Regions from separate parts of the Homo sapiens genome. Here region 2 is linked to region 1. Evidence: fine-mapped expression QTL. A gene starts in region 1. The other region holds a variant in brackets. All regions are shown on one strand. Distances are from middle to middle.

Region 1 (4,391 bases):
CTTTTCAAGTGTTAAAATCTAAATCCGAATTTGCTTTTTAATTATTCTGCTGCATTTACTTACATTACACAGCCCAGGGCCCAAATGTCTGATTCACAGCCATGTCCTTGTTTGTTGAGGACTTCAGGAGAGAGATAATTTGGGGTACCACATATCGTTCTGGAAAGACAAAATATTGAGATCGTGTTAGGAACTATTCCACTACTTAAACTTGGTTCTCTTGACATGACTTGATGGGAGACAAAATCTTAAACAAAATCTTAAAATCTATACTGAATTTCTATTTGGAAACATTTGACTTTTGGCATCTGAAAATTCAATTGAGATCTGACCAAATGAGTTTTGGTAATTTTTAAAAATGCACACACGTTGTTTTAGCCCACATGCAAAGTGTTGTTAACCAACTAAAGCCAGGGACGTCGTGGCATTTTATACATTTTAAGCCAAGAAAAGACTTCATTGACTGCTTTCATAATCAATTTAGAGGCACAGGGTGCTCTGTCTAGTCCATAGTGGGCATTTAATAAGTATTTCTTTAAATTAACATTGCTATGATTTATAGATTTTATTACCGGACCTCTGAAACATTAAATGCAAAATAATGAAGGCATATTTGGTCTCCACAAAAGTCTACTAGGATGCATCTTTCTGACTCTTACCTCCTTCTGTGTTCCAAGGGTTCTAGCCTGGCTGCCAGACCGAAGTCCCCAACTTTTAGTTCCATGGCTTCATTAATAAAAAAGTTCCCTAGACGATAAACAAAACAAAATGTGAATCCCTTTGAAAATGCGTTCTAACCAAGTACACACACATCCACTTTGGAGCCAGGCAGCCAATTGTTATATGAAAGTCGCCCATTCAAAAGCAAGATTGCAGACACGAGATCCCAATTAAGAACATTAATATGTAAAAAAAAACAGAGAGAGAAAAAAGAACTCTAACACAAAACTCAGCTTTTGGCGTCAATGACTTACCTAGTTTGAGATCTCTGTGCAAGATTTCTTGTTCATGAAGGTATTTCAGTCCAGACACAATCTGCCTGAGGTAGTATCGAACTTCTGGCTCTGTCAACACCTTTCTTGCTTTCAAAATATGAGCCATTGACTAAGAAGAGGAGAAGGAAAAAAGAGAATCTGTCAAAACAGTTATCAAAATCACTGGTTTCCCTTTGCAGGATGAGCAATGAAAGTTAACTTTGCAGTGTAAGTGCTGCCACAGCTAAAATCCCAGATAAAATACTCTTTGAATACCATGTTAATTCGGGGTAAGCAAATGTTCTCAAATAGGAGTTGACACTTACCCTTCTACTGCAGTATTCCAAGAGAATGTAAATGTTTTCTTTGTCCTCGAAGTAGTGGTAAAACTGCACTACATGCTTATGATGAAGAATTCTGTGAAGCTCTATTTCTTTGTCAATCTAAATGAAAAAGCAAGGTAAGGCTTATTAGCTTCCAGTCACCTCGGAAAAGCCAGTGATTACACATGCAGAAGACATTTTCCTAACAGGGAAGGGCCATCCTTGCACACAAAGAAAATACTTTACTCAAGAGTCATACGCACCTTTTCCCTTTGATGAGGTTTAGCTACTCTGCTGTGAGGAATAATTTTTGCGGCGTAGACTTTGTTATTTGTCAAATCTGTCATCTCGTAACATTTTGCAAAGCCACCCTGAAAGGAAACAAAGCCGAGACGGAATTGAGGATGGCACAAAAATGGACGGCAGATATTTTAAATAAATAAATAAATGGGAAGAAAGAAAAGCAAAAAAAAAAAAATTGAGGAATGGAGGAGGGTGGACAGAGGGAGGCATTCGACTTCGTTAAAGCTCCCTCATGAAGAGAAATGCATTGCTGGAAACAGCAAGTTCAAACAGTTTCTCTTCTTCTTTTATAAAGGGGAGCTTTATGGAGGGAGTTGGAACGGGGAGACATGAAAAATAATCTCTGATGAGACTTGTCAGGAAAATTCCCTGGGAGCAGATAGAGGGAGAGAGGTCTGATGTAGAAAGCCCTCGCTTCCAGACTCAAGATGCATTTCTCTGGGCTGCGGGAGACACACAGTTCTGAGGCTAAGAATGCAAAGCCGATCCCCAGCGCTGCCGGCGCACAAAAGCCAGAGGGCAGGTGAGGAGCCCACCTCGCGCTGGGATCGGACCCCCGAAAAACCCGGAAGCGGCGGGCGAGGGACCCCGCGGGCTTGCCCGGCTTGGGGTCGCCCGGACAGACCTCCCGCCCGCCCGGCAGCCCGGCGCCCTCCGCTTGTCACCTTTCCCAGCACTTTGCCCCGGCAGTAGCGCTTCCCAGTCGTGGGGTCGACGATAATCCGCGAGATCTCCGGCCCCGAGTGCGAATGGTGGTGATGGTGGTGAGGGGCCGCCGGGGGCACTTGCGCCTGGGACTGAGGTGGCTGCGATTCCTCGGGGGGCTGCGGCGGCCGCTTCTTCTTCGAGTCCGCTCCGCAACCCTTGCCCAGCGCCTGCTCGCACATTTTGGTGCTGGCGGCTGGCTGGTAGGTGATAGTCCGCAAAAGCTCCATGGTCGCCTTGCCGCCCCGCACTGCCCGCTGCCACCCCCTAGGCGCGGTCACACGTCCGAGCCGGCCGTGGTCCTCGCACCCTTGCCTCTGGTGCCGACTAGCACCCAACACCCCGGTCCACTTGTGCGAGTGAGAGCGCTCGGCGAAGTCTTATATACGGGGAGGCGGGAAGGGGGCGGAGACTCGATACGCGACATCACGTCACGGCCTATGCCCCGCCCCACGGCCGGCCGAGCGCGCGTGGCCGGGAAGCAAGTCTTGTCCCGCCACCCGGGTCTCGCTTCCCAGCGGAGCCGCGCGCCTCAAACGCCGGCCGCCGAGATCTCTTGCGGCCGCGGGAAGGCCTTCAGAGCCGTCCGTGGGCCCCGCTGTCCCGTTCTTCGAAGGCTCCGAGCCTCAGCGTACAAAACAGAATCGCGAGGGCCGACGCCTGGCCTCACCCCCGCCCCAGCCGCCTGGTGGCAGGGCAGTGCCGTGACCCGAGCGAGTCGGGCGCGGGTGTAGACGCAGTCCCTCCCCCGCACAGCCCTTCCCGGCCGCCCGGGGCCTCCTGTGTCAAGGTATCAGGGTGCCCGGAGCCCGCCGCACGGGCAGGCGAGGCCTCCTCCGGCCGTATGACAGGGCTCGTCTGCAGCTGCCCCGCAGTGCCTGCCCGCGCTGTGACGAGCTCGCTGGTGTCTAGCTGGGGCAGTGCCGAGAGGCCGTGGGGGTGAAAGGCCGGGATTCGTGGAGCCGGGCATTCGAGCCCATCGCGCTAGGGCAGACACGGGCCCGCAGCCGGGATCCCGGGCCGATCGGCCAACCGTGCCAGGATCCCACTCGAGGCCCGTCTGGCCCCCGCCCATGCCCCTAGAGCGAGCCTCTGTCTGAGGTCGGCCCCTGAACCTTGCAGAGCGAGGTCGGCGTCCTGGCAAGGCGTCCTCCGCCCGTAGCCCGAAGATTGGAAAGCAAGGGCGCCATCTTGTGGAATGTTCCGGAATGCCGTTAGGTGTCGAAGTGGGCAGCGGTTGACAACCGTGGGCCTTTGACAGTTACTAGTACTAAACATCGATGCCGATTGTGAGTTTCCAATCAGAGTCATCTATGACTTCTTCCGAATGCATCTGTTGAGATGGCTCATGAGCTGCCCTGGTTCCTGGAGAGTCAATCTGAGACTTTCTGGGGTAGGGAGATTGGTAGGATGAAGAGAGGAGCGTAGGCCAGTGAGTGCAAACACAGCTTAGTTTCCCATTTCCAGATTTTGCTGTGCAGTTTGACTAATCTAGGAACACGTTTTTTTGTTTGTTTTTCTTGTTCTAATTACGATAGAGTAACATTTATTGAGGACTGTGCAGTATTTTTAAATGCCTTATTTCATCCTACAACAATTCTGAGAGAAATATTGTAAGGAAGGAAAAATAATTTTCCACCTTTCAAAGTTTTGGCCTGGGTCGCTGTAACCAGACAGATTAACAAGAAAACAAAGAAGCTTATTAACATATACGTCTCATATATACATGGGAGATAACCAGGAAAATTAGAGATGGTTTAAAATCGGGCTTAAATACTATCTTTAGCTAAACCAAAAGAAAAGAGTGGGGCAGGCAAGTTAAGGAATCATGACCAGGAAATGTACGGTAAACAGGAGTGGGGTTTCTTATTTCTTCATTGATAAGTTTTTCATGATTTAGAGTCATTCTTCCTGGTACAGAGGAGACACTTTTACAAATGGAGTTTTGTGGGGTTTTTTTGTTTTTTGTTTTTGTTGTTTTTTTTTTTAGTGAATGTACGTTTCCCTTACGAAAGGGTAATATGCCATTTTTAGAGCATTTCCTGGGTCTGCTGGTTCTCAAAATAATTATCTTAAAATAATCTTT
Region 2 (4,391 bases), 22 kb after region 1:
TAGATGGAGTTTTGCTTTTGTTGCCCAAGCTGGAGTGCAATGGCACCATCTCCGCTCACTGCAACCTCCGCTTCCCAGGTTCAAGCTATTCTCTTACCTCAGCCTCCCAAATACCTGGGATTACAGGTGTGTGCCACCACGCCCAGCTAATTTTTTGTATTTTTAGTAGAAATGGGATTTCACCATGTTAGCCAGACTGGTCTTGAACTTCTGACCTCAAGTGATCCACCTGCCTCGGCCTCTGAAAGTGCTGGGATTACAGGAGTGAGCCACTGCACCCAGCCAACTTTGCACCCTTTTTAAACCTGAGGTCCCAGTGACCCTGGCCCCTATACTTGCCTACAATTGTCTTGTCTTGACATTCTGCTGCCTGAATCAGCTGAAAGCCCTTTTTATTCCACAGAAATGTTCTTTTTTGACCAAGCCTAAAGGCCATACTTAGAAGCAGAAAATACGAAACAACCCCTGGCTCTGACCTTGTCTCCATCAGCCATCCAGTGTCTGGTCCACACTACAGCCCTGCCAGCTTCCTGACAAGCTGTGCATTTCTCATGGCACTTTCCACACCTGTTCTGCTGACCTCGGAGCCCCCCTGAATGGGCTTTGTAATTTCTCAACAAGCTGGTCTCAAAGCTCAGTGTGGATTCACTTCTCCTGAGAGCCTCATCAAAGAGTGGGGATCTTGCCATTTCTACACTATCCAAGCCTGCACTTGCCCTCTAGTTTTCCAAAACAATTTACAGGCACACACTTAGATGATCAAATTCTTAAAAAGAACAAGGATGATGAACAAAAAGAAACCAAGATGATGGTTACTCTGGAGACGAAAGATGAGAACATCATAGGGTGGGGCAAATTGGGGTTTCCAAAGTAGTGGTGATTTTTCAATTTCTTTACCTGAGTGTACTTATTTGTTATTCTCTAAACTATATAGGTACATTTGTATGTGTGTAAATATTTGTGTGTATATATATAATACACATACAAGTGCTGCATATGCTGTGTGATGTGTATTTATGTTTAGCACCATAAAGTCTATTATTTTAGCCCAAGATTACTCTCCAAGAATAATCCCTATTTTTTCATTTATTAATAAGCAACATTTATTGAACCCCTTTTACATGATATGACAGACCCTGATAAATCAGACAGCAGTGAACAAAAAAGACATAACCCATCTTCTCATGAACTTAGCACTAAGTTTAGGAGGGATAAGAGTAACACAAAATATCAAAGTATTAGATAGTGCTACAAGCTATTATAAAAATGGAACAAGTTGGTATGAAAGTGAGCATCAGTGTGTGTGGGGTAACAGGGAGTGCCAGCATGTGCAGGGTGACAGTGAGAGCATGTGCGGAGATGAGAGCGACAATGTGTGTAGGGGTGACGTGTTTGTGTGTAGGGCTAACTATGATAATCGGCATAGGCATGAAGTGAGAGTATGTGTAGGGGTGACAGTGAGTGGCAGTATGTTTAGAGGTGACAGTGAGTGAGTGTGTGTAGAGGTAACAGTGAGTGGCAATGTGTGTAGTGGTGACAGAGCATGTGTAGCTGTGACAGGGAGTGACAGTGTGTGTAAGGTGGCCATGTGTGACAATATATATGGGGTGACAGTGAGAGACAATTTGTGTAGGGGTGACAGTGAGAGTGTGTGTAGGTATGACAGTGAATGACAGTATATGTAGGGTGACAGTGAGTAAGAGCATGTGTATGGGTGACAGTCAGTGACAATGTGTATAGGGGTGACAGTGAGAGACAATGTGTGTACAACTGACAGTGCATGAGAGAATGTGCAGGAGTGACAGCAAGTGATAATGTGTGTAGGAGTGACAGCATGTGTAGGGGTGACAGTGAGGGGCAGCATGTGTAGGGGTGACAGTGAAGGACAGCATGTGTAGGGGTGACAGTGAGTGACAGCCTGTGTAGAGGTGACAGTGAAGGACAGCATGTATAGGGGTGACAGTGAGTGACAGCATGTGTAGGGGTGACAATGAGGGATAGTATGATTAGAGGTGACAGTGAGGGGCAGCATGCATAGGGATGATAATGAGGGACAGCATGTGAAGGGGTGACAGTGAGGGGCAGCCTGTGTAGGGGTGACAGGAAGTGACAGCATGCGTAGGGGTAACAGTGAGGGGCAGCATGTGTAGGGGTGACAGGAAGTGACAGCATGCGTAGGGGTAACAGTGAGGGGCAGACTCTATAGGGGTAACAGTGAGG[G/A]ACAGTATGTTGGGTGACAGGGAGTGACAGCATGTGTAGAGGTGACAGTGAGGGGCAGCTTATACAGGGGTGACAGAGGGGGCAGCATGTGTAGGGGTGACAGTGAGTGATAGCATGTGTAGGAGTGACAGCGAATGACAGCATGTATGGGGTGACGGTGAGGGACAGCATATGTAGGAGTGACCATGAATGACAGCATGTGTAGGGGTGACAGTGAGGGACAGCATGTGTAGGGGCAACAGTCAGTGAAAATGTGTAGGAGTGACAGTGAATGACAGCATATGTGGGATGACAGTGAGGGACAGCGTGTATAAGGGTGACAGTGACGACCAGCATGTGTTAGGGTGATAGCAAGTGACAGCATGTGTAGCGGTGACAGTGAGCAAAAACGTGTAGGAGTGACAGTGAATGACAGCATGTGTAGGGGTGACAGTGCAGGGCAGCATGTGTAGGGGTGACAGTGAGTGAAAACATGTAGGAGTGACAGTGAATGACAGCATGTGTAGGGGTGACAGTGCAGGGCAGCATGTGTAGGGGTGACAGTGAGTGAAAACATGTAGAAGTGACAGTGAATGACAGCATGTGTAGGGGTGACAGTGAGGGACAGTATGTTTAGGGGTGATGATAAGGGGCAGCATGTGTAGGGGTGACAATGAGGGACAGTATGTTTAGGGATGACAGGGAATAATGGCATGTGTAGAGGTGACAGTGAGGGGCAGCTTAGGTAGGGGTGACAGAGAGGGGCAGCCTGTGTAGGCGTGACAGTGAATGACAGCATGTGTAGGGGTGACAGTGAGGGACAGCATGTATAGAGATGACAGGGACAGCATATGTGAGGTGACAGTGAGGGACAGCCTGTATAAGGGTGACAGTGAGGAACAGCCTGTGTAGGAATGATAGTGAGTGACACCAAGTGTAGGGGTGACAGGGAGGGACAGCATGTGTAGGTTTGACAGTGAATGACAGCATGTATAGTGGTGACAGAGGGGGGCAGCCTGTGTAGGGGTGTCAGTGAGGGCATGTGTGTGAAGGTGAGATGGAGTGACAGCATGTGTAGTGATAACAATGAGAGCATGTGTAGGAATGATAATGTATGTAGAGTTGAGAGTGAGTGACAGTCTGTGTGTGGGTGACCATGACAGTGTGTATGGGTTGATAGTGAGTGACAGCATCTGTTGGGGTGCACTTCAAACTGGGCAGGTCACGGAAATCCTCGCTGGGGAGGGGATATGGAAGAGGAAGCCTCAGTGAGAAGGATGCAGGCATGGGAGGATTTAGGAGAAGAGCAGCATGGTAATGGGCATAGCTAGTGCAGGGCCTAAGGCAGGAAAGAACTGGGCGCACAGGAGGTGCAGAGAAAACAAGGGTCACTGGAGGCTAGTGACCTGGGGAGGACACAGGAGGAAATAATAGCAACAGGCAGCCGCCAGAGCATGGAGAGCCTTATAGCCTGTATTAGGGGTTGGGGTTTAATTCTAAGAGTATGAGTAGCCAGTAAAGGGTCTTATGCAGGGGGGCTGATGTGATCTGATTTATAATTTGGGAAATATCGCTCTGCCAGCCGAAGGATGAGGTATTGTAGCATCGCCAGTGTAAGAAGAGCAGGAAGAGGCTATTGCAGTTGTGCAGGCAAGAGATGGTGTGATGTGAGGTACAGACATGTCCTTGCGTATGCAGAGACATGGGCCGCCTCTACTTGCAGCAGCTTGCTAAGTCCAGTCAAAGGTAAACATGAGGTCGTTTCCATGATTCTGCATAATAGTAGCAAGAGTGGCCATACTTAAGCCCGGTTTTGAGCATGTCACTCCCCAACTGTGAACTGTAGAGAAAAAAAATTCTAATCACGAGCTTCATGATCTTACAGCTCAGCCTCTCATTTTTATGTCTCCTCAATTACTTATTAAAACCTCTCATACTTTCTTAAAACGTGGGCAAGAGCCCTGCTCTAGTCCGTCAATATTCCACAGTCAGGGCACTGTCTTTAGCTCAGATTGGATGGTGTGAAATAAATAGGAATTTGACTTTATCCCCTTTGGAATAAAGCAGATTTTAATCTGGGACTTCTTTACAGGAATTTAGATAAACAAAGTAAAAATAAGAGGGTAGTTCATAGTACCGCAGAGGTACTATGCACAGGCTCTAGACTCAAAAGCACAGGCTCTAGACTCAAA

Which allele goes with the higher level. Alleles are on the strand shown, and positions count from the first base shown. SD is a standard deviation of normalised expression in the study named.
For the expression in monocytes of the gene that starts at base 2,662 in region 1, A is the high allele of the variant in region 2 and G is the other (large effect, 1.5 SD a copy in Quach 2016).

The links. PIP is the estimated chance that this variant, and not a neighbour inherited with it, causes the effect.
Region 2: its variant is the best candidate, but not a certain one, in a credible set for the expression of PLK2 in monocytes (Quach 2016, PIP 0.79).

Annotation. Positions count from the first base shown.
Region 1 is chr5:58,457,425-58,461,815 of GRCh38, forward strand. It overlaps PLK2 (polo like kinase 2), which reads right to left and starts at 2,662. Exons shown (of 14, transcript NM_006622.4): 1 at 2,266-2,662; 2 at 1,561-1,668; 3 at 1,301-1,417; 4 at 975-1,104; 5 at 660-747; 6 at 64-159. The coding sequence starts at 2,535. RefSeq lists an enhancer at 1-6 and silencers at 658-952, 2,980-3,159.
Region 2 is chr5:58,479,589-58,483,979 of GRCh38, forward strand. No RefSeq gene overlaps it. Among named protein-coding and RNA genes, the nearest start is that of GAPT, 9.7 kb to the right of the region's middle. The variant G/A (reference allele first, on the strand shown) is at 2,221.